Linked DNA regions of Homo sapiens: region 1 is linked to region 2. The links come from fine-mapping of genetic effects on gene expression. A gene starts in region 2. The other region holds a variant in brackets. All regions are shown on one strand. Distances are between the middles of the regions. Region 1 has its middle 47 kb from the start of AGA. Region 2 holds the start of AGA (aspartylglucosaminidase).

The links.
Region 1: its variant is fine-mapped to the expression of AGA in whole blood (TOPMed, PIP above 0.99). The same link has a PIP of 0.9 or more in CD4 T cells.

The regions. Positions count from the first base shown.
Region 1 is chr4:177,386,988-177,403,603 of GRCh38, forward strand. No RefSeq gene overlaps it. Among named protein-coding and RNA genes, the nearest start is that of AGA, 47 kb to the right of the region's middle. RefSeq lists a silencer at 6,383-6,442. The variant T/C (reference allele first, on the strand shown) is at 8,783.
Region 2 is chr4:177,439,136-177,454,607 of GRCh38, forward strand. It overlaps AGA (aspartylglucosaminidase), which reads right to left and starts at 3,302. Exons shown (of 9, transcript NM_000027.4): 1 at 3,114-3,302; 2 at 1,138-1,291; 3 at 441-553. The coding sequence starts at 3,240. It overlaps AGA-DT (AGA divergent transcript), which reads left to right and starts at 5,875. Exons shown (of 4, transcript NR_183779.1): 1 at 5,875-6,308. RefSeq lists enhancers at 2,348-2,427, 3,254-3,797, 3,888-3,967.

The sequences.
Region 1 (16,616 bases), 52 kb before region 2:
ATCCCAAGTAGCTAGGATTACAGGCGTGAGCCACCACACACAGGTAGCTTTTAAAAAATACATATGCTGGGCCGGGCGCGGTGGCTCACGCCTGTAATCCCAGCACTTTGGGAGGCCGAGGCGGGCGGATCATGAGGTCAGGAGATCGAGACCATCCTGGCTAACACAGTGAAACCCCGTCTCTACTAAAAATACAAAAAAATTAGCTGGGCGTGGTGGTGGCTGCCTGTAGTCCCAGCTACTCGGCAGGCTGAGGAAGGAGAATGGCGTGAACCTGGGAGGCGGAGCTTGCAGTGAGCCAAGATCACGCCGCTGCACTCCAGCCTGGGCGACAAAGCAAGACTCCGTCTCAAAAAAAAAAAAAAAAAAAAAAAATACGTATGCTGGCCAGGTGTGGTGGCTCATGCCTGTAATCCCAGCACTTTGGGAGGCCGAGGCAGGCAGATCACAAGGTTAGGAGTTCGAGACCAGCCTGGCCAAGATGGTGAAACCCTGTCTCTACTAAAAATGCAAAAAATTAGCCAGGCGTGTTGGCGCACTCCTGTAGTCCCAGCTGCCCAGGAGGTGGAGGCAGAAGAATCGCTTGAACCCAGGAGGTGGACGTTGCAGTGAGCCAAAATTATGCCACTGCACTCCAGCCTGGGTGACAGAGTGAGACTCCGTCTCAAAAAAAAAAAAAAAAAAAAAAAAAAAAAAAAAACATATGCTTAGGTCCCAACCAGACCACTGAAATCAGAACCATTGAAAGTGTGGCCCAGGAGTCAGTGTTTTTTTTTTAAAGGTTCCTGGGTGTTTCTACTAAGAACAAGGTTGAGAAACATTGGTCTTGTCTCTATGGTATTTGAACCAGTTTTGAATGCTATGGCCTCTTCTTCCTTGTTTTATTATTCTAACTTTCCCCAAGTTCTTTGATGTGCTAAGCACACTTATCTATGACTCTTCTAACTCATTCAAATCTTACATTCTTTAAGAAATCTTTTCAGACTTTTTTTTTTTTTGAGACAGAGTCTCGCTCTGTCGCCCATGTTGGAGTGCAGTGGTGCGACCTCAGCTCACCGCAACCTCTGCCCCTGGGTTTAAGCAATTCTCCTGCCTCAGCTTCCCGCATAGCTGGGATTACAGGCACGCACCACTGCACCCAGCTAATTTTTGTATTCTTAGTAGAAACAGGGTTTCACCATGTTGGCCAGGCTGGTCTTGAACTCCTGACCTCAGGTGATCCGACTGCCTCAGCCTCCCAAAGTGCTGGGATTACATGTGTGAGCCACCACGCCTGGCCAGTGATGCAATCTTGGCTCACTGCAACCTCCTCCTGGGATCAGGTGATCCTCTCACCTCAGCCCCTGGGTAGCTGGGACTACAGGCACGCACCACCAGGCCCTGCTAATTTTTTTTTTTTTTTTTTTTTTTTTGTATTTTTGTAGAGATAGTATCTCACCATGTTGCCCAGGCTGGTCTCAAGCACCTAGACTCAAGTGATCTGTTCACCTAGGCCTCCCAAAATGCTGGGATTACAGGGGTGAGTCACGGTGCCCGGCCTTAAAATGATTATTAATTAATATATGAACTTGTTGTTGGAAAAGAATATACATTTTTCTTATATTTTCTAATAAGAAGGTACAGAAAATCATATTGCAATTTATTACATTGCTCCTCCCACATAGCACTTTGCTAGATTTTGAATTTTACTTGGTAGGATAGTCTGGCATCATATGGACAAAGAGTTAAACTTGTTTCTATAAATGACAAAATAGCTCTCTCTATATGAGTGACAGAATTTCCTGATGAAAATTAGACCATGAAGCAAAGGTTAATAGTAAGTATAATAAAAATAAGGTTTCCTGGCCAGGAGCAGTGGCTCATGCCTGTAATCCCAGCACTTTGGGAGGCCAAGGTGGGCAGATCATACCAGGTCTAGACATTGAGACCATCCTGGCCAACATGGTGAAACCCCAACTCTACTAAAAATACAAAAATTAACTGGGCATGGTGGCACATGACTGTGGTCCCAGCTACTCGGGAGGCTGAGGCAGGAGAATCGCTTGAACCCGGGAGGCAGAGGTTGCAGTGAGCTGAGATTGCGCCACTGCACTCCAGCCTGGCAACAGAGCGAGACTCCATCTCAAAAAAAGAAAGAGAAAGAAAGGTTTTCTGTTTATAACATCGTTTCCTATGAAAAACCTAAAACACTTATCAAGACAACCTATTATTTTTTGATGCTAACCCTCTCATATCTGAGCAAACTCTTCCCTTAAAGAAATAAAAATGGCCAAGACTCTCGGATGACTAATGACACTAAGAGAGCTGGTGTCAACAATCTGTATCCAGTTCACGGGCCACAGTTCACTAGCCTCCAGCCTGGTTGATAAAACTATGCCCCGTGATAAAACTATTCACAAAATATCATTTGAACACTTTACTATGTGGAATTTAAGATAAGAATTTGGGGATGGGGGAAAAGGTATTTTTCTCCCTTCATAGAGATTGTAGTTCTCAGCTGTTACCAAATTGTCGATATAACACGAAAGAGTGACTGCTCTCTTTCAGAGTCTGAAAGAGAAAGAGAATTCCTCCAGGTCAGAAGAAGAGGATAATGATTTTTTAAGAGTATATCGAGAGATTGATGACATGAAGAAGAATTTCAGGCAGGCAAAGGAAATGGCTGGAAATAAATGTCTCAGGCATAACTGGTTTTCCACAGTTGTCTTTCAGAGCTGCCACAGGGAACAACTTCATAGCCTTATTGAGCATGAAGCAGTTAAAGTTTCCATTAAAATTGGCTAAATTAACTCTCCCGATGCTTTCGGACAAATAGTAAAAGGTCAGGCCTGATGTTTAACTGACTTCATAATATCTGCTTTTCTTTTATTTATTAATATTATTTTCACTTTCCTTTTTATTACCATTGTTTCAAATATGTTATTTAAAGTAACTACACATGAGAATGTTATGAAATAGTGAGGCAATATTAAACCAGTCCAAGCATGGTGCTTCTTTCCATAACCACCTTTATATCTAATTGCAGTCCTCGCCTTCCTGTTTTCTTATTGGACCACTAGGCTGGAATGTCTAAGCTGTGTAAATTCAAGCTCACTAGGCTTTTATCTTTGACAGTGCCTAGTGTCACTTTGGGAATATCTTGGGGAATATGTTACATCTGCACATTTTTTTTTCATTTTATTGTCTTTTCTTCCTTGCAAATTGTTACCTAATGACACATTAACTTGTCAGATTATTTGGTTACTTTCTGTTTCAATCATTTCTATTAATTTAATTTTTCACATCCAGTTTTCATGTTTACCGAGCAATTTTGATGTTCAGTTTGTTTTACTTTCCTTACACTACAAATTTCTTGTTTGAAATCTCCTGCCTTATTTCCAGTTTTTTTTTAAATCCCTTTTCCCTCCCTTTCTTTTCCCTCCTTCCCTCCCTCCCTTCCTCCCTTTCTTCTTTACTGTCTTTCTCTCTTTTTTCTTCCTTACCTGCTTCCTTGCTTTTCTTCCTTACTTCAAAATCATAGGGAAGGCTCACAGATACTCAACAATTATTCAATTGTTACATATTCAAATGGTAAGCATGTAAATGCTTACCATGTCCTAAACACTGTGCCAAGCCCATACATATATATTTTTTTAGTTCTCATAACCATTCTCTGAGGCAGAAATTATCATTCCCCTCATTTTGCAGATATTAAACCTCAGGCTTAGAAAGAACATGTAAACTGACCACGTAAGTCAGTGGCAGAGTCATAGACAGAATTGAGCTACGCTGCCTTTCCCCATAGGGTGAGATTCTCAACCATTCTGCCTGTAACTCTATCTCTGACTATAGCTGCAAAGTGTCCTCTAAAAAAGAAAGGATAACTGTTCTTGATGATATTCACCTCAGAAAAATTAAAGTTTATTCCAAATATCAGAGGCTTCCATTAATAGTATTTTATAAGACTATGATCTATAAATGTGTCCAAAGCCAACCTGAAGTCATTTATGTTTTTTACACTTACTATCTCAAAATGGTAGACTTTTCTAGAAGTTTTATATACATCCTATTAGCTGCTCTTCCTTTTAGACCTTTAAAGTTTCCCTCATTCGTCACCCCTTTCACCTGCATGGCATTTTGCCGGCTCACTGCCACATCTCTTCACTCCCTTCCCTTCCTTCTAACATTTTTGGCTTCTGTCGCATCTCTTCTCCACTTCAACTTTCCAGAGTCCTAATTCAGTTAGTCAATTGTCATTCACTGCCTCTGCTTTCTCTTGATTTCTGTAATTGCACTCCTTATGACCCCTTTCCCGTCCACCATATTCTTCTGAAAGTACAGATCAAATAGATGTCCCAACTTATTTCAGACAGGAAAGCTTTGATTGGGCAAATTATATTGTAAGTACTGTGAGGGCTGGGTTGAAAGAAAAATATGAGACTGAAAGCAGGAAAGCTCTTGCAATAACATGGATAAGAGGCAATGAGGTCTGCTGGGGGGAACCGTGGGCTGTGATGAATGGAATGCAGACAAATATGGGGTAAGATCCACTGCCGCCCACTTGCCAGCTCGGTGGCCCTGGGCAAATCACTGAAGGTCTTTGAGCTTTAGTGCTTTCATTTTCAAGATAAAGGTTGTAATATCTATCTTATTTGTTGCTTCAAGCATCAAAGGAAATACATTTATTTTGGCTTATAGGAGATGCTCCAGAAGTTGCAGTCTTCACAATTTAGATTTGGGGCAATTCGGTTGCAAAGAGAGATAGATAAGGGAAACAAAGACGAGAAGAATAAAAGAATGCCAGTAGGTTCAGTTTGAATTATCTCTGGCTTTCTAAATTCCTAGATTGTTCCTAACCTGCCACAATATATGTGGGTTTTCTTTGTCTTGTTTTCATCTGGAAAAACTTACCATCTTTGAAAAGATATGTTTTTGATAATACTAGCCTATATTACTTGCCAGTTAACTGCTATCTGTGAGTTTCTCTGTATAGGAAGTTGGAGGGGGGTAGTGATGGGAAAAGAAAAAAAGCGGTAGCGGAAGGCAGAAAGGTGGGCAGAAGAAAGATGAGAGTGGAGGGTGGCAGCAAAGGCAAGGTGTTACACAATCTTTCTTTTTGATTCATAGCACACACTTTTCCTGAGTTTGCTCCGGGTTGTTTTCAAAGAGTGTACAGATTTCCTGCTGATTATTGACTCTGCTTTACAATTCCAGCGTTTTGTCATAGTTTGTTTTTTAAAGTTGAGTAACCAAGCACATGTACCTTTGTCTATGCCGCTAATACCTCCTTAGTCACATAACAGCTGTTCCCTGGGTCTCTCCTATAGTGCTGTGACACGTTTGTACCCAGCAAGGAAATCATATCCCTCAGTCATCATTACTTTAGTTCTAATCATTTGCATTTCTATAATCTCTCCTATGATACACATTTGTATTTCAGAATTTCTTGCCCTAGTTAATGTGGGAGAATTAGCTAGAAGGTAAGTTATATAAAAAAATCTGTTTTCTTCCTTGTAATTGTCATCTAGAGGTCTCCCCTACCATTATATCCCTTGAAATTCTGAGTAACTACTGTATATGCTTGTATCTGAGTCTCTTGATCAATCTCAGGGAAAAAAGCATGCTATAGTATTATTATTATTATTATTATTATTGAGATGGAGGCTTGCTCTGTTGCCCAGGCTGGAGTGCAGTGGTGCAATCTCAGCTCACTGCAATCTCCACCTCCTGGGTTCAAGCAATTCCCCTGCCTCAGCCTCCCAAGTAGCTGGGATTACAGGCACCTGCCACCACTCCTGGCTAGTTTTTTGTATTTTTAGTAGGAAAGATGCGGGAAAACACAAAGCTGGGCTAGGGTGGTCTGGATTAAGAGAGAGGCCGTGAGTTGGGGAAATCAAAGGTTTACCACCTTCCAAACCACCACTATTTGCAGCCCTCCTGTTTGTCCTCTGCTAGCCAATGCTTCCCCACTCTCCCATTCTGCCTGTGGGTTGCCCCCTTTAGTCCTGACCTCCATCCCATCTCTCCTCCTTCCACCCATCCCAATCAAATATCTCTAATTTGGTAATTAAGAAGGATGTTCATCTAACTAGAATATTCACACCAGCGAATGGATGAGGCTTAACCCCTTCAGAGATCATTTCCATTTTAAAGCTGTAAAAATGAAGAAAGGGAATATTGGGAAAGAAATGGCCAGATCCTGCATTTTTGGTGACCCCATATCTGCTTTTCTAGAGGGCCAAGAGATGAAAATTATTCTGGCTGCATAATTTATAGCTATATGGATTTGAATTGTTGCTTTCCTCTTGCTTCTCTCTGACTTGACCAAGCACGTAGCTAGGCCTTTGTGCCGCTGTGCACGAGGGAAGCTTCATGCAGAAGGAAGGCGGGGAGTAAGTGTGGTTTGTGGTGAACTCTTTCTCGTGATCTTTGTTTTCAAGAATCCTGAGCTCCTCTAGGGGTCTGTACTAGAGCAGAAGGCAGGGAGACCAGGGCCTTTGAGCACAGTGCTCTAGAAGGAAACTGCTGCAGTGTGAGCTCGGTGGACTGTACTCCAGTTAGAGGGTCTCAGCTTTGTCCCAGGCTGTGAGGGGCACAGGAGTAACAAACCTGAACCTCAGAGGATACGTGGGTCTGAACATGAACACGTGTAAGGCATATAGGTGGGCTGGTCATAGGAGGACTGTCCCCATCTAGGCTACTCTGGGTGAGTCTCTCCCTGCCCAAAGAACGTTGAGGACCCTAAACTAGAAGGGCACTCACCGTGATGGAGATTGAATTCCCCATTAGGCAAGTTAGAAGGGGGCTCAGAGACTAATTTGTCTTCAAGTAAACAACATTTTTTAGTATATGGGGGTTTGTGGATTCAAACTTACACTCTACAAGAATCAACTTTAGAGCCATGTAAAATCTCCTTTCATCACTAGCTTGTAAATGATCACAAAACAAAAAGTAGAGTAAAATTCACAATCCTCTAGGCAGCAGTGCAGGTATTACTATATCTTCACTGTCTCCATGTTCTCTATATCATCATTTTACTCAAAGCTAGGCTTTGAGGAATCAGTCAGGTTTATTTTAAAACTGAAAATACAAATGTTAACAACGTCTTTTAAAAAACCAGAGTGTCTCCCAATAGTCCTAGCTCAGCTATTTCATTTTTACATATTACCTTTCACTGGCATAATTTTACACATTTGCAATTATGTCTTGCAGACTGTTTCTTTTCTTTCTCAAAGCCTATGAGGGTTAATGCTTCAAATAACCTGCTGAACTTGAGAAGAACTGACAGAAGATATCTATTAATTAATTAGCTCCAGAGAATGCTAGAGGAAAAATAAGAGTGGCTTGGTCTGGTCATTGTATGCCACACAAATAAAGGCTAAAGGGAGATTTTAAAGCATATCACTGGTTAATTGCATACTATTCAAATCCTGAACTAATGCTTTTTTCCCTCTACTTTTTTTTCTGCCACATATTTTCTTTCCTGAAACACCTTGGGTTCTCCTAATAACCTGGATTTTTAAATACGCTCAGGCCTATTCTGGCCAAATACCTGAACTTACAAGATTCCTCTTTTGTACTGTCCTGTTGCTCTTCCTGCGTTTGCAGATTGATAGAATAAGCACTGGAGGCTGAGCACGGTGGCTCATGCCTGTAATCCCAGCACTTTGGGAGACCGAGGCGGGTGGATCACTTGAGGTCAGGAGTTCAAGACCTGCCTGGCCAACAAGGCGAAACCCCATCTCTACTAAAAATACAAAAAAATTAGCCAGGCATGGTGCCAAAAGCCTGTAATCCCAGCTACTCCAGAGGCTGAGGTGGGAGAATTGCTGGAACCCAGGAGGCAGAGGTCAAGGAGGCTCACTGCTTCCTTGAACTCAGGAGGCAGTGAGCCAAGATCGCACCGCTGCACTCCATCCTGGGTGACAGAGCCAGACTCCTCAAAAAATAAATAGAGAAGCCACTGGATAAAGCAGGTCTTGATTCTAGTTCTCCTTCTGCCTACTTTTAGGAGCTTGGTAGGCAAGCCATTCAGCCTTTACAAACCTCATTTGTTATCAGCAAAATGTGAATTACAAATAGTGATTCTATCTACCTCCCAAGGTGGTTGTTAGGATCAAAAGAATCAAATCTGGGAAAACACTTGAAAAACTTTAACATGGAACACAAATGTAAGCTATTGCATAAGACCAAATTAAATATCTTACATTTAATTGTACTTTTTCCCATCTATCAGTTATAAGCAGGTCACCTGAATTTAAAAAATAACTGATACAGAGTAATGTGTGTGTGCATACCATTCTGGCCATAGAGCATACTGAGAAGACAATATTATAATTCACTGCCTAGTACCATTAGTTAGAATGTTTTCAATCCAACCAGGTGATCTACTTTCTTCCCAAGCAGCTTTTAAAAAAGGTACCAAACTGCCATTAAGTGAAAAAAATAACCATTTTATAAACTTCACAGACATTTACTCCTTTATCTTTCTTGTCATTTGCACAGAAAATAAAATTTGCACAGAAAGCACTGAGTTCACTTACTTGAGAAGTGAGGTGATTCGGTTTTCTCTTCCCTTTGGAATCACCACTTTCCTTCTGCTGTTATTCTATGTGGGCTTCACTAATCATAGAATGGCAGTTTCTTAATCAAAATTGTTTTATTTTGAACACAAAAGCAAATTAAGCAGATTTTTTAAGAGATGGAATCACACAGAGTTTATCTTACCTCCAAAGGAATGGATTGGGTTTGGTGTTTGAGTTTTATTAGGAAATTTATCATAAACTCAGGTCAGATATATTAA[T/C]AAGTATTATATTTGGCTCAAATGAAAGCAGAGGGGAAAATGACGTTAGGGATAGTGATGGTTGAGAAATAAAAGCCACAAATTATTTAATACTCCTGAGCAACATCAAACAAAACACCTCCAAGTTAAGGGATCACTTTTTACACAGCAATATTTACTATAACAGTGGTCCCAAAATTATTTTATGTTGAACTTAGGTAGTTGGTAAGACTAATATTCAATTTTCAAGAGACCGAAGTTCCTACCCCTTAGGTAGTTGGTAAGACTGTTATTCAATTTTCAAGAGACGGAAGTTCCTACTCCTGGTTTTATCATTCATTAACCTGTGAGCTAGCCAAAGTGTCATTTAAATGTGCTGATTCCTTTGTCTATAAAATGGGAATGTCTATTATTTTAAGTTATTATAAAGTTCAAATGAGAATACATGTAAAACTCTTTTCAAAAGGGAGCATGTGGAAGCATTATCATTATTCTCGATTTAACCAATAAGAAAAATTGTAATGTTAATCTCTTATAGTACAGATTTTGTGTTTTTTTTTACAAATCAAATTTTCCAAGAAATGTTTAAGGTGTTTTCTTATTTTCCAGAGTAATATTTATTGTTAGATTGAGGGAGTGGGTGGAAAGAATACAAATTCAAGTCAAAGTACATAAAAGCATATGCCTATTTAAAGTTTCATTTTCTTTCCCATTCTTATTGTGATATTACTCAGCATGATGTATTACGGGCTTTAGGGGTGATTTGTATTCATCGTAAAATTTTCTCTCAGTACTATTAGAGCCCATTGTGGGATGCTTAGGACTGTCTGAAAGTCATTTATCATTCAGAATTTATGATAAAACCACTGTTAGGCAGCTTCTAGACACTCTGTCATATTTACCCTTCTGGAAAGCAACATAGTGAAAGAACATTTGGGAAGTGACCTTGATGCTTTCATATTGTGCTATTGTAAATATCATTAATGCTAGAACTTTTAAACATCCATCCTATCAAGAATCAACTGCTAAGATGTCTAAAAAGCTATATTCCTACATTTCATTTCTGACTCTTTTCCTCAAATTGTAAATGAGCTGTTTCTAGCAAGCATGGTCCTTGATGTGGCATTGGAGTCTACTTTTTAGATCACTGACATTTACTAAGGCCTTTCAAGAAATGAAGGCCACATTCTTCAGACTGTATTTCTGGAAATTATGTGCATATTTAGCTGGATTTGTTTTTCTGTGCAAGGAAGAGACTAGAGACTTGCTGTGCAACGTTATTGGGATGCCCCCTTGAATAAGTCTCAAAGGTCTGAGCAGCTGCTCAGAATGGGAAGTTGTGCTTCTTTGCCAAGACAAGTATTTTTCATTTTCTAGAGTCATAGATTACATTGGACAGAGAGAAAATGTTCTGGATTCTTATTGTCCCAGTGATACCACCATACTACCTACCTTGCATGCAAGTTGGTGTTGAACAATGCAGTGAATCTACAGTGCTAGTGTGTATTCTTCCTCCTTATTAGGGCAATCAAGAAAAAACAAAACTACCTTTGTCCAGAATTTAAGACGATGACAACTCTCAGTTTTGAAGGGTAGAAATTATTTAAGTGCTATTTTTTTCTAGCACCAAAGCCACTTCTTCCGTACAAAGTACTTAGATTGTAAAAGTTTCTTGTAAAAAAACACACAAAAAACTTCCATGATTCCAAGGAAGAAAAAATGCAAAAACATTACACAGTCCCCCCAGAGAGTTGGATGCTGTCCCTTTTTCAAGGCTTGTTGCTCCATTTCTTTTCTCCTGACCCTACCCACCAATATAACCAGTCTCTCCTTGCCTAACATGTCCTTAGACTTTACTCAAACTGTTCCCACTACTAGTAATGCCATTACCTGATACTCCAACTGTTGAAGTCCTACCCTTCCTTCAAGGCCCCATTCAAATTCTGCTTTCTAGGTCTTCCCATATGTTCTCCGATCAAAATGATCTGTCTTCAGATATACCTTCATGATAATTTGCTTATACTTCTATTAATGGCTTATCGTCAACCTTATTTTATCATTAGTTATCTACTGTGTTTGAAATAAAAAATGGGCAGCATGTTGGTTGTCAAGAATTGTGGAGCATCTGAGATTTTATCCAAAAGTAAGCTAACATGTTTACCTATCAGATTCATGAATGCTGGCAGAAGACATGAAACTCCTGGGTCAGAGACAAAGGACTTTATTACACAAAGATATAGCAGTAGCTGGAATATCAGCATTTGTCCCAGTTCTCTAAACTCCAGTTCCCAAGGGAGACACAAAGAAGGCCAGGTAACGCCTGCATGTGCAGTGGGTTGCCCTGTGGAGAGGAACCCTGAACTCACGAAGCCCAAATCCTTTATAATAAGAAGTAAACCTTACTAAATTTTGCCTGGAGACATTAATTTATTATTCTAAACCACAAACAAACCTGTCCTTTGCTCCAGAGGCAGCTCCCTTTACTGTCTTCCAAGTCTGTTCACTAAACAAACATCCTTAGAAAGATACCCCAAAACAAAGGTGGTCTGTACCTCTGCACCTCTGTCCGTAAGACATGAAGAAATGTAACAGACCCAGAAAATTGATTCCCAACATTAGTTTCCTCTATACTGCCCACCCTTCCCCTTGATTATAAGCCCCTAGAGGGCAAGAAGAATGTCTTATTATAGTTCTCATGGAATAAATGCTGTTTGTTCAAGAAAGTCCATTACATCTTCTGAGTAAATAGAATGATCTACCAGAGATGTTAATAATTTCCTATGTCAACACACTATTTTTAGAGAAATGTTTCTGCCCCAGCTGTCTGGAGACCAATGAGAATATACATTTTTTTGACAACACAGTCTCCCTGTTCTACATGAGTTTTTCTCTTTGGGGGTAACTAATTCTCAGGCCTTCCATTTCCTATTTCTTCTCACTCCTTGCCACAAACACAGTATTTTTCTACTTTTATTCTTGCCCTCGCCAATACCAAATCCTAGGAAAAGAGTGAGATTCATTTGCACCGGGTATAAAAAGCTTTAGTGTCACCCATCTGAGACTTAATGTCAACTTCCATTAAGTGGGAAAGAAATAAAAATTTTGAGAATGTAGCAATTGCTAGAAACCATAATAAATAAAAATGTTTGACTGCTGTTCTTGAAATTGTTCATTCATAATACATTGATGAACATCTACCCTACCTACACACAAGAGTAAGCTTCAGGAATGAGTATTCATACTACAAGGAAGTTATTTACGATGGAAGTACTCTGAGAGTAGAAATACAGCATTTTTATTATCACTTATATATCTGCTATTTTAAAGCTAACACAAAGCAACACAAAATGGTTTTGAATCAGGGACAAGAAAAAACATTGTCCCTGCTAAGACAATCATGTAGTAGTATATATTCTTTGTCTAAGACAATTCTTACATAGGACAGGCACGGTGGCTCACATCTGTAATCTTAGCACTTTGGGAGGCTGAGGTGGACGGATCATGATGTCAGGAGATCAAGACCATCCTGGCCAACATAGCGAAACCCCATCTCTACTAAAAATACAAAAATCGGCTGGGTGTGGTGGTGCGTGCCTGTAATCCCAGCTACTAAGGAGGCTGAGGCACAAGAATTGCTTGAACCCAGGAGGCAGTGAGCCGAGATCACGCACTGCATTCCAGCCTGGCAACAGAGCGAGACCTCGTCTCAAAAGAAAAGAAAAGAAAAGAAAAGAGAAGAAAATTCTTACATAACTCAAGGTTTTTTTCTTCAAATTAACACCCCTTCTAAACATTGAGAGTGCCAAGAGAGTTTGAAAGGGCCAAAGGGGATGGTGATGATCTTAACAGAAGAAATATGCCTGTATGAGTATGGCATATTTGAGTGGTGTGAGTGGTAGCTGCATGGATTTTATAAAAAGTTCAAATAATGCCTAGGGGATACACTGCATTGTATTTAATGCAGCATTTGCATGGGAGTTGCCAGAACTCTCAGAGGTGCTTTCATAGTGTGTCATTTTTAAACTCTGTAGGTATAAAGATGGTTGTGATAATTATGGGCCAATTTTGCTAGTTAATATTCACTGCAAAGTATCAGACCCCATATATTCCATGCCTGGTGCCACTCCAATATTCAGGATTGCAAGTCAAAGTTACCACCTCAGAGAGAACCTCTCTGATCACCAGTCTAAAGCTGCATCTATACCCCATCAGTCAGCCTGAAATGATCTTAGTGGTTTATTTGCTTATTGATAATTTTCTCCTTTCTCCCTCCAGCACATGAGATTTGGGAGTCTTGCCTATTTCTTTAGAGTTGTATCCCTGGGCCTAGAACAGTGTCTGAGACACGGGGAAAATCAAGAAATAATCAAAGAGAGAATGGATCTATTGTTCTACTCTTTTAGGCCACAGTTTCCATTGGTATGTGCAGTTTTCTTGGCAGTTAGCAACTGTTCTCAGCAGAGTGCTGGCCAAGTTTGCTTTCTCAAAACCCACAGATGATAGGTGAAATCCTCATGGCTTGACGAGGAAGGAAGAAGAATCTTTCATTCTTCTCTCACAGTAACTGTGGTTTCCTCCTTCTAATGCTATTGCTTCTCCTTATTTGAGATTTGGGGTTGTGTTAGGCCATTTTTTGCATTGCTAGAAAGAAATACCTGAGACTGGGTAACTGAAAAAGAAAAGAGGTTTAACTGGCTCATGGTTCTGCAGCCTGTGCAATAAGCGTGGCACCAGCATCTGCTCAGCTCCCAGTGAGGCCTCAAAGAGCTTTTACTCATGGCAGAAGGCAAAGTGGGAGCAGGCATGTCACACTGCAAGAGCAGGAGCAAGAGAGAGAGGAGGGAGATGCCACACTCTTTTAAACAACCAGACCCTGCATGAACTCAGAGCGAGAGCACAGATATCACCAAGGGGATGGGCCAAGCTATTCATGAGGGATCTGCCCCCGTGACCCACTGCCTCCCACCTCCAACACTGGTGATTCCATTTCCTTCTTTTTTTCTTTTCCATTTCATCATGAGATTTGGAGAGAACTAACCATATCAGGGTGTTTTTCTGAGTATAGAGAGAATCATTCCTGGTAACTGTTGGATTTTTCAGCAGTTCATCCAGTCCACAGACCATCTTCCCTTCAGTCCCTCCCACCACATCACACAGCCTCCAGCAATTTGTGGGGAATATTTGTTTACAACCGTGTTATGCATATACACATATGTGTGTAACATAGATTATGCATATTTCACACTGATAAATACAAAGAAAATAATGATAGGGGTGCAGGGAGAATGCACACCTGCTGATTCTCACATTTTAAAAGGAAGTACTGGCCGGGAGCGGTGGCTCACACCTGTAATCCCAGCACTTTGGGAGGTTGAGGCAGGCGGATCACGAGGTCAGGAGATCAAGACCATCCTGGCTAACACGGTGAAACCCTGTCTCTACTGAAAAATACAAAAAATTAGCCGGGCATGGTGGTCGGCGACTGTAGTCCCAGCTACTCGGGAGGCTGAGGCAAGAGAATGGCGTGAATCCGGGAGGCGGAACTTGCAGTGAGCCGAGATAGCGCCACTGCACTCCAGCCTGGGTGACAGAGCAAGACTCTGTCTCAAAATAAATAAATAAATACAAGTACTAATTTTATGAGGGCAATTTCAGGTAATAAAACTCTTCTATTTAGTAATTGGGCTAGGTTCTATAAAATATGAGCCACATCAAATCTCAGATGATTTAGGTCACATTGAGTTTCAGATTAGTCTGCCTTTCTGAACCTAGGCAGACTTCTAATAAATATATTCTGGAAAAAAATGCATATATTTCTCTCACCATCAACCCCAAGAAGGACATATGTGATATTTTTCTAGTATTATTTCTAACACAAGCCATCCTTATATTCACCCTCCTCCCTCTCCTGTTTCTACAATTCTGCTCATTTCACATTTTCTGCAGAAGCAGATTTCCAGAAGGAAAAATCAAAGACCTAACAACTGCTGTTAGCACAGGAGTTGACCTAGGAAAGGGCTCCGCATTTGCAAGTTGGAGGCGTAATCTACCTCGCTGTAGATAACTGTCTGTTTCCTTCTGTGGCCCTAGGGCTTTCCCAATTCATCTCGCTGATCAAACCTGGTTACTCAGAGCCTGGGGTGTGTTTGTGAAGGACAGAGCAGGCTGTATTTAGGGAGAATGCCTGTTAACACATAGAAAAAGTGACTTAGTGTTGGCAAGTCTTTCATTTCCCTATTTATCTACATTATTTCTTTACATGGATGTTTCTAACATCACAGGAAGTACTGTGGCTTTCTTGCTGTGTTTTTGTTTTCCTACTCAACCAATATGGTCACCCTTTCCTGTTCACTAAACCTAAAGCAGGAAGATTCTTATACACTCTCCGCATGCTTCCAGGAAAGACTCTGTTGCTTGTTCCTTTGATTGAGGAGATTGCATTGCAAATAGGAAGATATCTTGAGAATGATTAGGAAAGGCTTTTATTCTGGAAATGCTCAAGTACTGAGGTGAAGAAAGATGAAGACCTGCAGAGCTGATTCACATCCATTTAATTGTTATGTAGCAGGACAAGCCACAGACAAAACCCCTCAGACACCGAGTTAAAGAAGGAAGGGCTTTATTCGGTCAGCCAGGGGCTTCGCCGGCAAGACTCATGTCTCCAAAAACAGAGCTCTCTGAGTGAGCAATTCCTGTCCCTTTTAAGGGCTTACAACTCTAAGGGGGTCTGCGTGAGAGGGTCGTGATCGATTGAGCAAGCAGTGGGTACATGACTGGGGGCTGCATGCACCGGAAATCAGAAGGGAACAGAACAGGACAGGAATTTTCACAATGCTTTTCCATACGATGCCTGTAATCTATAGATAACATAATTGATTAGGTCAAGGGTCGATCTTTAACCAGGCCCAGGGCGCGGCACTGCGCTGTCTTCCTATGGATTTCATTTCTGCCTTTTAGTTTTTACTTCTTCTTTCTTCGGAGGCACAAATTGGGCATAAGACTCTATGAGGGGTGGTCTCCTCCCTTAGTTACAGGCCAAATAAATACCAAGAGGAAGGAAAAACAGAAATTCTCAACTGAGAATGTGGCATTTTCATTGAAACACTAGTAATCAGCTAAATGAGATTTAGGGGCTGATATTTATATTTACAAGAATTTTTCTTTCAATAATAAGAAAAGGCCAGGCACGGTGGCTCAAGCCTATAATCTCAGCACTTTGGGAGGCGGAGGCGGGTGGATCACTTGAGGTCAGGAGTTCGAGACCAGCCTGGCCAACATGGTGAAACCCTGTCTCTACTAAAAATACAAAAATTAGCTGGGCGTGGTGGCGTGCATCTGTAATCCCAGATACTCAGGAGGCTGAGGCAAGAGAATTGCTTGAACCCAGGAGGCGGAGGTTGCAGTGAACCGAGATCTGGCCATTGCACTCCAGCCTGGGTGACAGAGTGAGACTCTGTCTCAAAAATTAATTAATTAATTAATTAAAGAAAAACATATTTAACACAGTGTTGAAAATGATTCAGAACTTCCCATCTGACTGAAAAAATCAACAGATTAAGTACTCTGCACTCTTATCTAGTAGAAGTCATGATTCATTGTAGCATTTCAGAGACATTGGCTTTAGTTTCCATTTTGTGAAAAATTAAGAAAGCCAGTAGCTTAACCACAAAAAAACCTTGTTTTATGTGTTAGCTCATAATGATATCCTAATATCACACAAGACAGTGATTTAATCCATAAGGCAAAGAGCTCAAATTTCACACCCAGCTGTCACTTTCTGCCTACCCTGTATAAAGAATCACCTAGTTTCCTTTTTAATCTTACCTCTGTAAGCAATTCCTTCATCTGACTCACA
Region 2 (15,472 bases):
ACTTTGGGAGGCTGAGGCGGGTGGATCACGAAGTCAAGAGATTGAGACCATCCTGGCCAACATGGTGAAACCCCGTCTCTACTAAAAATATAAAAATTAGCTGGGCATGGTGGCACGTGCCTGTAATCCCAGCTACTTGGAAGGCTGAGGTAGGAGAATCACTTGAACCCAGGAGGCAGAGGTTGTCGGGAGCTGAGATCGCGCCATTGCACTCCAGCCTGGGTGACAAGAGCGAAACTCCGTCTCAAAACTTCCATTGCCTTCTTCTTAGAGATGAAGAAGTAAAGAGATTTAAAAGTTACTTATCCAGTTCAATAGATGTTAAGTAAAACAGCTGGAATTTGAACTTAGATCTGGTTTTATCCATGATTTTGTACTATTTTTCAGTGAAAACTATAGTCAAAAGACTAGAAAAAATTTCAGTGTAGTTAAAAAAATACCTGACTCTCCTACTAAAAGTGTGTGTGTTGTATGTTCCAGTACTTTCCGTGCCACACCAATAGCATTTTTAATTCGTCTGAGATCTCCTACTGCTCCTACATCCATAGTAGTGCTGCAAGAAAATAGAATGCAGTTAGGAATTAAGGAGTTTTCAGAGGTTCATAGATTAAAAACATTGCTTTTCTCCAATCAATAGTGTTTTGCGGTTAAACTCCACCATCTTAACACAGAAGTGACAGCACATCCACGAAGTTCATATAGATTCCCACAATCAGACAAAATTAAGGAAAAAAAATAGAAAATCAACTTGCCATGTACCACAACAGCACTAAAATTCTCAGTTTCTCCAAGCTAATTTTAAATATGGCTTTTGAAAGGGGCCTGAAGGCTTCAGGTCAGGCAAACCACAGCATTTGTGGACAGCAGATAAATGATTGTTTATAAGGTCAGAGACATAGTTTTTTAGCTTGGCATTCTCCCAGTTCTAAGGGACTACCTATCTCTCCATGTGATATTTCTATTACTCTGATTTTTTTTTTTCAGTTGAGAGGGAAACTGTGTTTAGAAAGGTCAAGTATAATAAGCTAGGGGTTTTGATCTGTGTCAAAACTCATGCATTCTTTCATCTTGCTCTCAGAAGACCACAACTCTAAATGTAACTCAACATAATAAATAGGACCTGAACGGTGTTCTTACCCATCCATGATCATGGCATCTAGTGTGGTTTCTCCAAGTTCATCAGGACTTCCTCCAAAGCCTACAGAGCCGTCACACTGCTCTCTCTCACACATGGCACAGCCGCTCTCCACTGCATCCAGGGCAGAGCCTCCAGATGCTAATGCCCTCCACGCTGTTAATCAAATCCCAATAATGCTTGTTTATATATATATTTTTTTTTCAATGCCAAATGCAACAAACCAACTCCAATTTAACAACTTTTTCACATTTACTGAGTTAAGCTGATTTTTTAACACATTAGTTTATCAAGTGTTACAAAGGAGTCAGTGAAGAGTCAAAATTATTTAACTAGTTATCAGAAGAACTCAAAAAACTGGCTATTGGTGCAAGCTGAAGGTTTTTTTTTTTTTCACTTACTAATATCTATCTCTTCTGTGTGCGAGAAACGAAATCAGTATCCCCTCCTTTATTTTAAAAGGTACAATCGAAACCACTAAAAGGCAGTTAAATAAAAAATCCACTAAACCGCAGCCTTCTTCACACATTTCTTCTGCATCATTAGATTAAAATATGCATAATTGATATGTGTATTGAGGTAACACCTATCCCAGGAAGTCTTAATAATACTGAACAGCAAACAATTACAACGTGGACTTCATATGGATTAGTTCATTGAGTCTTCATAACAGCTTCTGTGGTAGGTACTGTACAATCACGACCCTCATTTTAAAGAAAAGTAAACAGAGCCACAGGTCAGGCAGTTAGTTTAAGGTCACACAGCTGGTAAGTAGCAGAGCCAGGATCCCATACATTTGGGGGTGTGGGGGGAAGGGTCTTTGATGGACAATTTCTTTTCTGGTAACAACAGAATTCCTTGAAGAGTGGGTGCTCTGGTTGGTAAACACTACAGCACCTACAGGCTTGAAAGTGTATTTACGCAAGTTCCCTCTTTCAATACAGGCAACTTAAACACAGAACTGTCCCCCGCCCAGGCTGATGCAATTTCTTTTCGTCTCATTATGGCTGGGAATATCTTTCTCACAGCCTGCTTCTTCATTTTCTCTGAATCGTATGCACTGCCACCAAATTCTGGAGCCAATTCTGCCCTAGAAAGTTAATACGTTAGCAACCTCAGATGGAGGAGGAGGGGTCTGAAAATGACTCTTCTGGTCATTAAGCAAATGAAAGAAACAAGCATAGTACAATGCGAAAATGCCAAGATAATGGTACGTAAAGGCTATTAACAAGGTGTAGAAGGCAGGAACCTAACTCATTCTGGACACGAGGGCAGTTAAGTCAGGGAACGCTTCCTGGAAGAGGTGATACCTTAGCTTAGTGGTTCTCAACCCTGTCTGCAAATCGAAATCACCTAGGGAGCTTTTTAAAGAAAAACAGTGGCCCTGATTCCAGCAGTTAGATCACAGTCACAGGAGGTGGGCCCCGGCAGGATGATTTTTGAGAAGCTCCCCAGATAGTGTGAATGTACAGCAAAGGTTGGAACCTTGAATTCTAAGTGGCAGGTAAAGTATGACAACACGTGGCAAAAAAAGTAAATGGGAAAAGAGTAGGCTATGGCTGGGACACTATTAGTCGTCTACAAAATTGCAAAGAAGTGAAGGATTAGAAACGAGAGGTGGAGACGTACACAGCCCGTGAAAAGACTGTCAGGCAGAAAAGCGTAGCTGCTACTTGATTAAAGCACAAAGGCCATAACTATGGTCAGCAGCAGGGTGGAAAATACATTGCGCTGGGGGCTGCATGAAGGGAGGACCTAAAATGCAACAGCGGTAGGTGGGGAGGATGCAGTAAAGGCCACTTGCAAGAGACTGAGCGGCGCTGGAGACTCGGGAAGACCTAGAGGGCGGGACCGCGAGGCCCGGCCCAGCCCGGCGCTCTTCCGTCCGCCCTGCCGGGTGACTGCAGCGGGGCGGGCTAGTCATCCCCACCCGCAAGCTCTCGCGGCGCAGCCGCCCGCCCAGGCCGCCAACCCGCACCTGCTTCGGTTGCATTCTTAAAGGGCCAAGTGTTGACGACCAGGGGCAGAGGGCTGGAGCAGCGCACTAGGGCCTGGCAGAGCAGAAACGGCACGAGAAGCACAGGCAAGTTCGACTTCCGCGCCATCCCTGACCACCGAAGAGACCAGCGCGAGAAAAGTCCCGGCAGCCAGCGATCGCCGAACAATTAATCCCCAGTGCCCCGCCCGCCTGGCGCCCACGCCCGCTCTCTCGGGGGTTCGCTCAGGCGTCCCTCAACTCTCGCGAGACGAGGCGTCCCTGGGCCCGCGGGAGAGTTGTGTCACGGGGCACTGAGCTGTTCCCTGCGCTAAGGTGCTTCTTCCTAAGTGCTGTTCAGATTTTTAAAATAGCCAGACAAGTTGCTGCTTTTCCTGTGGTTAAAATAGATTTAGCTTGATATTGGGAATTTAATACAAAATTATTCAACTCTGGGTTGCAGGGCCCCAGGAACTTTAGCCGATTGCTGTGTACTATGGATTTGGTTCTTTTACTGTCTTTTTAATTTAAAGTTGAAGTTGAAAAGTTTGTCAAACTCAGTATATTCTTGGGGATCCCAGGCCTCGGAGGTCTGCAATAGTTATGAGTGTAGGTGAAGCGTGTTTGCTTAGGACCGGATTGATTTTAGATTTTTTTTCCATTCATAGCGTCCGTCATTTTCGCACCACAGCTTTTTGTAGCACTTCCTCTCATTATAAATCCCTGAGCTGGAAGAAAAACAGAAACGGCCTATGTACCCTCTACCTAGCACACTGAAGTGCAGCTTCCTGCACCTCCAGGGCAAGACGGCTACCTCCATTCCTTTTTAAATGTATTTTTACCTTCCTGCCTGGCACTATTAAGTGCTAAATAAATGAATAAGAGGAGGAATGGGGATTTTACGTGCTTGGTGGAGGCTGCTCAGTTTTGTTGCTGGGCAGACGTGCGAACATGAACTAATAATCCCTTTGGGTGTCTGGAATGCCTGCCCAGGTTGCCAAGGCAAGACACATAATCACATAATTTTTAAAAGCATCTATAAATCTATACAAACTTTAAAAATATGAACTAGGCTGGGCACGATGGCTCACGCCTGTAATCCCAACACTTTGGGATGCTGAGGTGGGTGGATCACGAGGTCAGGAGTTCGAGACCAGCCTGGCCAACATAGTGAAACCCGTCTCTACTAAAAATACAAAAATTAGCCGGGCGTGGTGGTGCATGCCTGTAGTCCCAACTACTTGGGAGGCTGAGGCAGAATTGCTTGAAGCCGGGAGGTGGAGATTGTGGTGAGCCGAGATCGCACCACTTCACTCCAGCCTGGACAACAGAGTGAGATTCTGTCTCAAAAATAAATAAATAAATAAATGTAAAAATATAAACTAGGTAGGAGTTGTGAGACTTACAAAACCTTCAAGGCTCTTATTGATTGCTAGGAAATTAAATACATAATTTAAAGAACATAAGATAGCCCAGAAGTATCATTATCCCGTTGGGGAAGTGTTAATTAAAAGATATAATAAAGACAAATTTTCTAAGTTCCTTTCATGGGGTTTGGAAGAGGAACAAGTCATCTGTGCTGGAGTAATCATAACCCAATGGCAGGTGAAACTGGAAACTTGGGTGAAACAGGGTAAGAAAGCCAGAAAAACATACATTGTCCTCTGAGTAAATTTTCCTTAGCTCCTGGGCTGAGTATTTTTATGCAGCCTTAAGGAATTAGGACATGCCTTTAGCAAAAATTGTAAAATACAATACATGGAAAATTGGTCTTAGTACCCCACTGATCTCTCTAGCCTCTTCCTGTTTTTTAAGGTATTTGTGTTTCTTCTGGTGGAAAGAGCCTGATCTGTTACCTCCTACTATGTCTATTTCTCCAAATTCTTTCTTCTTAAATAAAAATTCCTGTCAGAGAAACAGCTAAATTACACTATAGTGGGAATGGCTGATAGAAGGTCTCAATATATCAACTTTTCCATGGATATTTGTATGTATGTATGTATGTATGTATTTATTTTTTGAGATGGAGTCTTGCTCTATCGCCCAGGCTGGAGTTCACTGGTGTAATCTCAGCTCACTGCAACCTCCACCTCCTGCATTCAAGCGATTCTCTTGCCCCAGCCTCCTGAGTAGCTGGGATTGCTACTGCCTACTACCATGCCCGGCTAATTTTTGTATTTTAAGTAGAGACAGGTTTTGCCATTTTGGCCAGGTTGGTCTTGAACTCCTGACACAGGTGATCCACCCACCGCCCCCACCCCCCCGACCTCCCAAAATGCTGGGATTACAGGTGTGAGCCACCGTGCCCAGCCGGATATTTGTATTTAAATAACTAATATGCAATCCCTATAGAATCTACCCGATTCAGTGTCTTCTTAGTGGCTACTAAAATACCTACTGGATCCACTGTCCAGTTTGCCTAAATTGTAGCTGTTTCTTAAGTTAAATTCGTCTGGATATTTGGTTCCTTCTGGAGTAGTTTTCCTTTGACTAACACTTGAAGAATAATTTTCATTTTAGTTCTAGAAGTAACCTTCTGTTACTCTCACTTAGGTGCTCTTTTGGGCCTAAATATAATTAGATCCTTCGCCGTTGTTTTGAGGTAAATCTAAACGAAAAGGAACACCTGTTAACAGGTAGTGATGCCGCAGGAAAGTGCTGGGAAGGGAATGCTGGGAAGGGAAGGGCGTGGTCCCTTTAAATGATAAGGAAGGGGGGCGGGAAGTGCTGGGTAGAGGAGGGCGTGGTCCCCAGCTAGGGCTTCATCCCTGGGCCTGGGCCTACCTAGGTGAAGACAGGCATTTTTGTTTTCCTGCCCGGATGTTGCATTTCCCAAGACCACCCTGGCCTGCCATGCCCTCATCCTGTGCCTTTAAAAACCCCCGAGACCCTGGCAGGCAGACGCACAAGCAGCTGGACATTGAGAGGAGCATATAGGCAGAGAATACAGGGGCTGCTGGATGTCGAAAGGAACGCACCAGCATAGGAGCACACCGGCATGCTGGCAGGCCATTGACCAGCGGAAGAATGCAGAGTTTGTCGCGGGAGGTCAGAGAAGAGTCAGGCCGCCATACCTGACTCCAGGAGAAAACCGTCTCCCTTCTGGTTCCCCCGTCTGCCGAGAGCTACTTCCACTCAATAAAACTTTCCACTCATTCTTCAAGCCCACGTGTGATCCAATTCTTCCCGTACACCAAGGTAAGAACCCGGGATACAGAAAGCCCTCTGTCTTTGCGATAAGGCAGGGGTCTAATTGAGCTAACACAAGCCGCCTACAGACGGTTAAACTAAAAGAGCACCCTGTAACACATGCCCACTGGGGCTTCAGCTGTAAACATTCACACCTAGACACTGCTGTGGGGTCAGAGCCTCACAATCTGCCCGTCTGTATGCCCCTATAGAGGTTTGAGCAGCAGGACACTGAAGAAGCGAGCCACACCCCCATCACACGCCCTGCAAGGGCGACAAGGGAACTTTTCCTGTTTCAGTAGTAGACCGTAAAATAAATGATCCTCAGTTTTTCCAGCATCCTCTCCAATTTTTCATTCTTTTAAATCATTATACACAGGGCAGAGATATTTAGTGTTACTGATAAATCAAAGGAACTATTTGTAAAAGTATTTTTATTTAAATTTAGAATGCATTACACAATTTTGTTTGGCAAAATGTTTCTGTTCCTAAGTAGAGCTTACTTATAACTAGCAATACTTCAGGAGGATTTTCCAGACTTAGATTTTAAAACTTAGGGTGTGGCCAGGCCTAGTGGCTCATGTCCATAATCCTGGCACTTTGGGAGGCTGAGGTGGGTGGATGGCTTGAGCCCAAGAGTTTGAGACCAGCCTGGGCAACATAGCGAGATTCCTGTCTCTATTAAAAAAAAAATTAAAAAAAGGTGACTGTGTATCAGCTGTGGTTAACTCATGTAAGCTTCCTAAGCCATGCTTTTCTCATCTATAAAATGGAGATAATAATAGTATTCTTTCTTATTTTACAAAGCTTTGTGAATGAGGTAGGAGATGTGGGAGAATGGTGTAATACCAGGCAAATTAAATAAAATTCTCTTATTCTAATTTGCCATTCCCAAGTACCTATAATTGATGTCAAGGAGGCAGTCCAGAAACATACAAGGCAGTAAAAAGAAATCAATTTGATCAATTTGAGACACAGAAATTTCCACAGGAAGAATAAAGAGTTGGCCCAATACCTATAATGCATTTGAAAGTAATCACTTAGAATTTCCTTGAATATATTAAATGAGAATTAAAAATAATGTTTTTAGTTTACTTGGAGCTGCCTGAAATTTGGTTTGAATGCTTATAAAGATGGTGCATGGCAGGACTGTGAGATTTCTGGATGTCTTAAAAACAACACCCTTAAGTCTTAACAAGGGGAAAGCCTCAAATGGAATCTTAAGTGATGTTGCAAATAGAGCCTTTGTGTGTTTGTGTTTGTGTATGTGTGTGTGTTGGAGGTGGGTGGAGGAGTTTCAGACCGCTGCAGGCTCTCTTATTTCCTCTAAACTTCATGGCTTTCAATTTATCAGTCTCAGAAGGATGAAGAGTTGAGTCCCTCCTGATAGCATTTGAAGCTGTGGTTCCACAGAGGATTTAATGCTGTAGTTGCAGGGAGTCTAGGTATTTCAATTCTGAGGCTTAAAAAACTAAGCCATCCCCTCCGGCTTTTGCACTGATGCTGTGAAATCCATTTGAGAAACATGTCCATGTTTTGCTACTTGTTCAAAGCTGTAAGCCTGACTTGGCATTGAAATGATAATTTCTTTTTCAAAACTCCCCACTGAACTATTACCTAGGTTATCTAAATATAGGCTATTTACTTGATTGGCATTTGCTCCTGTCAGTTTCATAAACTGTAAGTAATGATTTTTGCTGATGTTAGAGCATTGTGGTACTGTGTTTCTAATTTAAATCAATGTCTACATTAATCTGGGAACATTTGATGTTACTACCTGATTGTACATTCTGGATGTAATTAGAGTCATTATACAGAAATAAGTGTCATCCTCTTATTCTCTAAATGAGAAAAGAGAGCATTCTTCTCTTCTGAAATAATTTTTCTGGGTCATGCCCCCAAAACCATTTGTCAAATCAATAGCAGATTCTAATCACAAACTTTTTTGACTTTTTAACCTTTAAAAGTCATCTTAGTGACTTATAAAGACCAAGATTGTGCAGTAGAATGTGGGCCTATTAAGTTATTTCTTATCAAAATAAATTATGTACAACATATTTTCAATGTGTAATTGTAATACTGGGCCACTGCTGTGATATAGTTTTCATAACAAGGACATAGTAGACTATTAAACATGGTGGATCTTGCTTTTTGTGACAGTTGTTTATAACATTATGATGTCATCATAAATGTGATCCATTACAATAGTAAAGCCTTAGGGCAACAGAGTAGATGTCAGGATGTCTTCCTACCACTTAAAAAATGACTTTGACATTGTTAAGGTAGTGTGACAGATGATTTCAATAAAGAAATTCAACAATAAAAGCAAACTTCTAAACTAACAGTGACTTACAGGAAGTACATTATGCATTTAAAATGATATCTACTTGTCGATCATGACAATGAGTATTAGAAAACTATCCAAATAATGAACACATGTATCCTGTGTGTAGCTACACAAATAGTCTGTTAATTCTCAATCATTCATATAAAAATATGAAAGGAAAGATTTTCACATAACATAGCTTATTTTTTTCATTTTTTAGAAACACTTTTGTGTCCTTCAAATATCTCTGAAATACTCTAGCTCTTGTTGAAAATCACCAGCCTCTTAACATTTTGATATGTATCTGTTTGGTGAAAAATCTTGGTATTATACACACTGTTGTAGAACCTGCTTTTTTATTTAATATCTCTTTGACCTCTGCATATCATTAAAATTTATGCTTTTTAAAAACCTTCATTGTGCAATGTAAATACAGTAAAGGACATAAAATGTAAATAAATAGATTAAATAATTTTGTAGAAAATGAACAGCTATGTAATCACCACTTATATAAACAAACAGAATATTGTCAGTACCCCAGAAAACCGCTAAGGACCTCTATAACATGTTCTCTGAAGATTTAAAAAAATTTTATTTAATTTTTTATTTTTATAGATACGGGGTATAAGTGTAGTTGTGTTATATGTATATATTGAGTAACGGTGACGTCTGGGCTTTTAGTGTACCCATCACCCAAACAGGATACATTGCACCCAAAAGGTAGTATTTCATTCCTCACCCCCTCCTTCCCTCCTACCTTTTGGAGTCTTCTGTTATTCCACTCTAAATGTCTGTGTGTACTCATTGTTTAGCTCCCACTTACGAATGAAAACATCCAGTTTTTTACTTTCTGTTTCTGAGTTATTTCACTAAGGATAATGGCCTTCGGTTCCATTAACATTGCTGCAAACGACATGATTTCATTCATTTTTATGGATGAGTAGTATTCCATGGTGTGTGTGTGTATATATACATATATCACATTTTTAATCCAGTTGTTTGCTGATGGACATTTAGGTTGATTCCATGACTTTGCTATTGTGAATAGTGTTGTGATAAACATTTGAGTGCAGGTGTCTTTTTGATAAAATGCTTTCTTTCCCTTTGGTTAGATACCCAGTAGTGGGATTGCTGGATCGAAGGGTAGATCTATTTTTAGTTCTTTGAGAAATCTCCATGCTGTTTTCCATAGAGATTATACTAATTTACATTCCCACCAACTGTGTATAAGTGTTTCTTTTTCTACACATCCTTGCCAACATCTGCTGTTTCTTGCTTTTTTAGTAATAGCCATTCTGACTGGTATGAGATGGTATCTCATTGTGGTTTTAAATTGCATTTTTCTGATGATTACTGATGCTGAACATTTTTTTCATATGGTTGTTTGCCACTTGTATGTCTTCTTTTGAAAAATATGTGTTCATGTCTTTGCCTACTCTTTAATGGGGTTATTTGTTGTTTTTGTCATTGTATTGTTTGATTTCTTCCTAAATTCTGGATATTAGTCCTTTGCCAGATGCATTGTTTCCAAATATTTTCTCCCATTCTGAAGGTTGTGTGTTTACTCTGTTGATTACTTCTTTTGCTGTGCAGAAGCCTTTAGGTTTAATGAAGTCCCATTAGTCTATTTTTGGTTTTGTCACATTTCCTTTTGAGGACCTAGTGATAAGTTCTTTGCCTAGACCAATGTCCAAAAGAGTTTTTCCTAGATTTTATGATTTTATTCTAGAATTTTTATAGTTTCAGGTCTTACATTTAAGTTGAAGACTTTATTTCTTAAGAACAATTTTTGGTTCACAGCAAAATTGAGCAGAAAGTACAAAATATACCCCTGCCCCCACACATGATAGCCTTCCCACCAGAGTGGCACATTTGTTACACTTGATGAACAAATTCTACACATCATTATCATTCCACATCCATAGTTCATATTTTTTTTTTTTTGAGACGGAATCTTGCTGTGTTGCCCAGGCTGGAGTGCAGTGGCGCCATCTCGGCTCACTGCAAGCTCCGCCTCCTGGGTTCACGCCATCCTCCTGCCTCAGCCGCCCGAGTAGCTGGGACTACAGGCACCCACCACCAGGCCCAGCTAATTTTTTGTATTTTTAGTAGAGACAGGGTTTCACTGCGTTAGCGGTGGTCTTGATCTCGTGACCTCATGGCACATTTGTTACAGTTGATGAACAAATTGTACACATCATTATCATTCCACATCCATAATTCATATTAAGGTTCACACTTGGTATTATACATTCTGTGGGTTTGACAAATGTATACTGGCATATATTCCATTAGAGTATTGCAAGAATCCTCTACTCCATCTATTCATCCCTCCCTCCCCTCTAACTCATGGCAACCAACTGACCTTTTTACTGTCTCCATGGTTTTTGCCTTTTCTGGAAGGTCATTTAGTTGGAATTGTGCAGTATGGAGACTTTTTTAGATTGGCTTCTTTCACTTTGTAATACGCATTTAAGGTTCCTCCATGTCTTTTCATGGCTTGATAGCTCATTTTATTTAAGCGCTGAATAATATTCCATTGTCTGGATGTATCACAGTTTATTCATTCTCCTACTGAAGGACATCTTGGCTGCTTCCAAGTTTTGGGAATTATGAATAAAGCTGCTGTAAACATCCATGTGCACCTGGGTGTGGTGGTGCATGTCTGTAATCCTAGTTACTGGGAAGGCTGAGGCATGAGGATTGCTTGAGGCCAGGAGTTAGAGACCAGCCTGAGCAATGCAGCTAGACTCTGTTTCTAAAAAAAAATTTTTTTAAGTTAACTTTGTGGTGGCAACTGCTGCCTGTAGTCCCAGCTATTAAATGGAAGGCTGAGGCAGGAGGATTGCTCAAGCTCAGTGTTTCAAAACTAGAATGAGCTGTTTGCACCACGGCCCTCCAGCCTGGGGCAACACAGTGAGACCTTGTCTCTGAAAAAAAATTCCATGTGCAGATACAATGTAATTTTAAAGGATGTATAAAATCTATTTATGATGCACAGAAATTACTTAACCATTGATTTCTGTTGCTGTAAAAATTTTTGGCTTTGTATACGAAGAATTTTTTCAGAATTAATCTGTCAGATACTATGTTGAGTTTATATGATAGTCAGTAGCAATTAAAATAGCATCACGCTAGATCATGAGTGAAGGTCAGTATTAGGAATTCAGGACTCTGACAAAGCAGAGTTAGCGCTGTCTGTTACTAACACTAAGGTTTCTCAAGAGGGCAGATTTAGAGATTAAGCAGTTCTCCAAATTCAGGACAAATTCAGGGAGTCAGGTGGTTTGAGAGAATGGTATCATAAGAACTCTGATATGAGGAAGCCCCTCATATCAGAGGGGCTTGAGACAGTGTCTTGCTCTGTTGCCCAGGCTGGAATGCAGTGGTCCAATCTTGGCTCAAGATTGAGAGGATTGGCAGTGCATCCTCTGCCTCTTGGGTTCAAGCAACCCTTCCACCTCACCCTCCTGAGCAGCTGGAATCCCAGGCATGGGCCACCACACCCAGCTAATGTAGCTTCTGTGGAAGAGGCTTTTTGATCCTCCTATCATCTTTATAATTTTCTACTAACCACAGAATTGGGTAGCTGTGAAACCACTAACTTTTAATTGCACCCAGAGCTCTGAGGACACTCAGTAGTTTAGGTTCCCTTATTACTGGATGGCCCTTAGAATAAAGGCACAGCTTAAAAATGTTTTTTTTTAATGCCAGGTCTCGCTGTGTTTCCCAGGCTGGGTGCAGTGGCTATTCAAAGGTACAATGATAGCTCACTGCAGCCTGGAACTCCTGGACTCAAGCGATCCTCCTGCCTCAGCTGCGACTAACAGGTATGTACCACCGCACCCAACTCATAAATCATTAAACCCCTTGAATTTCATAGGTTTAGAGTTATGATCATGGTAACTCTGCAATTTTGTATTAGCTTTAAGTGCTTTCGGTTGCAAATAACAGAAAACTTAATGGTGATTTAAAGCGACAAGGCTTTACTTTTTTGCACCTAATAAGAAAGTTGCTGGCATTGGTTCAGTAGCTCTAAACTGTGAGAACTTACTTGCTGCTTTGTTTTCACAAGACAGCTACTGTTGCTCCAGACATACATCCACATTCAAGCTGGGGAAAAGGACAAGGACCTGGTATCAGCCACATCTTTCCCTTTTCATCCAGAAAGCAAAAGCCTTCTCAGACACTCCCAGTAGAATACTGCTTTATTCTCATCATCAGAACGATGCCACCTGGCCTTTTCAATGAAGTCTCCAGTACTCAACAATATTGCTTTCTTTTTTTCAAAAAATTTTGAAGGATCTGGATTTCGCTTCCGGATCAACATAGTATACAGTGGGGCCGGGAGCAGTGGCTCACGCCTGTAATCCCAGCACTTTGTGAGGCCAGACCAGGCAGATCACTTGAGGCCAGGAGTTCGAGACCAGCATGGCCAACATGGCGAAACCCGTGTCTTCTAAAAATACAAAAAATTAGCTGGGTATGGTGGTGCATGCCAGTAATCACAGCTACTCAGGAGGCTGAAGCAGGAGAATTGCTTCAGCCTCTCCCCTCCCCACCCCTCCTCTCCCCGCCTCTCCTTTCCTCTCCTCTCCTCTCCCTTTTCTTTTCAAAAGTATTTATTGGCTGCCATGTGTCAGAGGTTGCCGTGAGCTCAGATCAGGCCACTGCACTCCAGTGTAGGCAATAGAACGAGACTATGTTTCAAAAAACAAACAAAAAAGCCCCCAAACCCCACATGGTATATAATGGGAATAGCACATGCAGAAACAGAAGCTCAGATACTTAGGTGAGCTTGAAAATTTAAGACCTATGTAAATGTCTAGAAACGTTTTAAAGGACTTTGGACTTCAGAAGAGAATAAATTCAGAGTCTAAACCTATCTTATTTAGATCTCAAGGACCAAAGAAGCCTCATTCAACATCAGAATTATGACTGTGGTGCTCAAGGAGAGATAGAAAGGAAAATGACAGTTCTCCATCTGGGAGAAAAAGATGGTTATTTTTCAGAATAAGAGATTAAAGGAACATGGGGGATTAATGCCTGCTAATCTTGATCTTCTCTAAGAGTAGTAAAAATCACCTGCCAAGATTACAACAGATTTGAAATCGAATTGGTGACTAGAAATTGGTGAAGCATTTTAAAAGATTTATTATGGAAAGTCTTATGAAGATGGGCAATAACTGAACAAAAAAGATTGTGAAACATGAATGGGGGTCCATTTGAATCAAGTAGCCTAACATTGCTGAATCCTAGTTAATCACAGTCTTTTGCCTTTCTTCAGTATCATTTTAAAACACCTAAGTTATAACACTAAAAGTGAGGGTTATCCCTTACTGTAGAGGGAGTCTAGTTGGTTGATGGGAAATCTATTGGTATTGCTGATAATGACAAAGTGCAGGCTGGAGTTGGAAAATAAGGAGTTTGTAATAAATGATAACAGCCCTTTTCATATACCACTAACATTGTATTCTAGGCTTCAAAGGTAGGTTCAACCACAAATTGAAGAGGGTGTCTTGCAATATAAGGGTGACTTAGCCTTAGAAACCCTAACAATTGTTGCTTTTCATTTGCCTTCCTTTTTTCCTTACTTCTTTTTCCCTCCCTGCCTCTTCCTTCCTCCCTTCTCTTTTACTTTTTCCTCTCCCCTTCCCTACTCTCCCCTCCCCTCCCCTCCCCTGCTCTCCCCTCCCCTCCCCTGCTCTCCCCTCCCCTCCCTTCCTCTGCTCTCCTCTCCTTTCCCTTTTCTTTTCACAAGTATTTATTGGTTGCCTACCATGTATCAGGCATGTTTTTAGGTGTTGTGGATATAGTAGTGAATAAAACAGACAAAATTCCTACTCTGATGGAACTTACCTAAGCTACTAAACAAATGCATAGTAAGAGTTTAGAACTCATGGAGGAAATTGAAGCAGCATAATGGAATTGCTGAGGTGCGATGCTCATGGTGAGGTGATGAGAAGTGGATTTTTTTTGTTTTGTTGTTTTTTTATTTTTGTTGTCGTTGTTTTTGTTTGAGATGAAGTTTTGCTCTTATAGCCCAGGCTGGAGTACAGTGGCACGATCTCGGCTCACTGCAACCTCTGCCTCCCTGGTTCATGCGATTCTTCTGCCTCAGCCTACTGAGTAGCTGGGATTACAGGCGCCCACCACCATGCCTGACTAATTTTTATAGTTTTAGTAGAGACAGGGTTTCGCCATGTTGGCCAGGCTGGACTGGAACTCCTGACCACAGGTGATCCGCCCGCCCTGGCCTCCCAGAATGCTGGGATTACAGGCGTGAGCCACCGCCTGGCCAAGAAGTGGTTTTGAAGGAAGAACCTACAGGGCTTGGTGATGGCTTGGATATGTGGTGTAGAGTAGAGTAAGTGAAGCACCGAACTTTACCTAGTTATGTTGAACAATGTGACTGGACATAGTTTAGGATGAGGAATACATTTTCGGCCTTGGGTACAGAGTGACCTTGGAGTTGATTTAATGAATGTAGTACTCTAGCAGCTTTCTGAGCCTTATGAGACTGAAATCTATATTGTTCACAGTGGACTCAGGAAAATACTCACAGAAGTGATTGCTGGTATTGAGAGAGTAGCTTCATGAAAGTAGGAGTAGGACTCTCCTGCTTGATTATGATATCTTCCTCCAAAGAGGAGAGCCATATCCCTGACTGACCAAGCGTTAATGTTTAAGTCATCTGGAATAAGAAGAAAAGCTGAGGAATGTTAGAGGAAGACACTCCTTATATTTCCTTTCATGTCGAGGGTATTCAGTGAACCACTGTCTTTCTATTCCTTTGCTTTGAGTGGCTTCTTTGATTGATAAATTTTGAAAGACAAAACCGGGCATG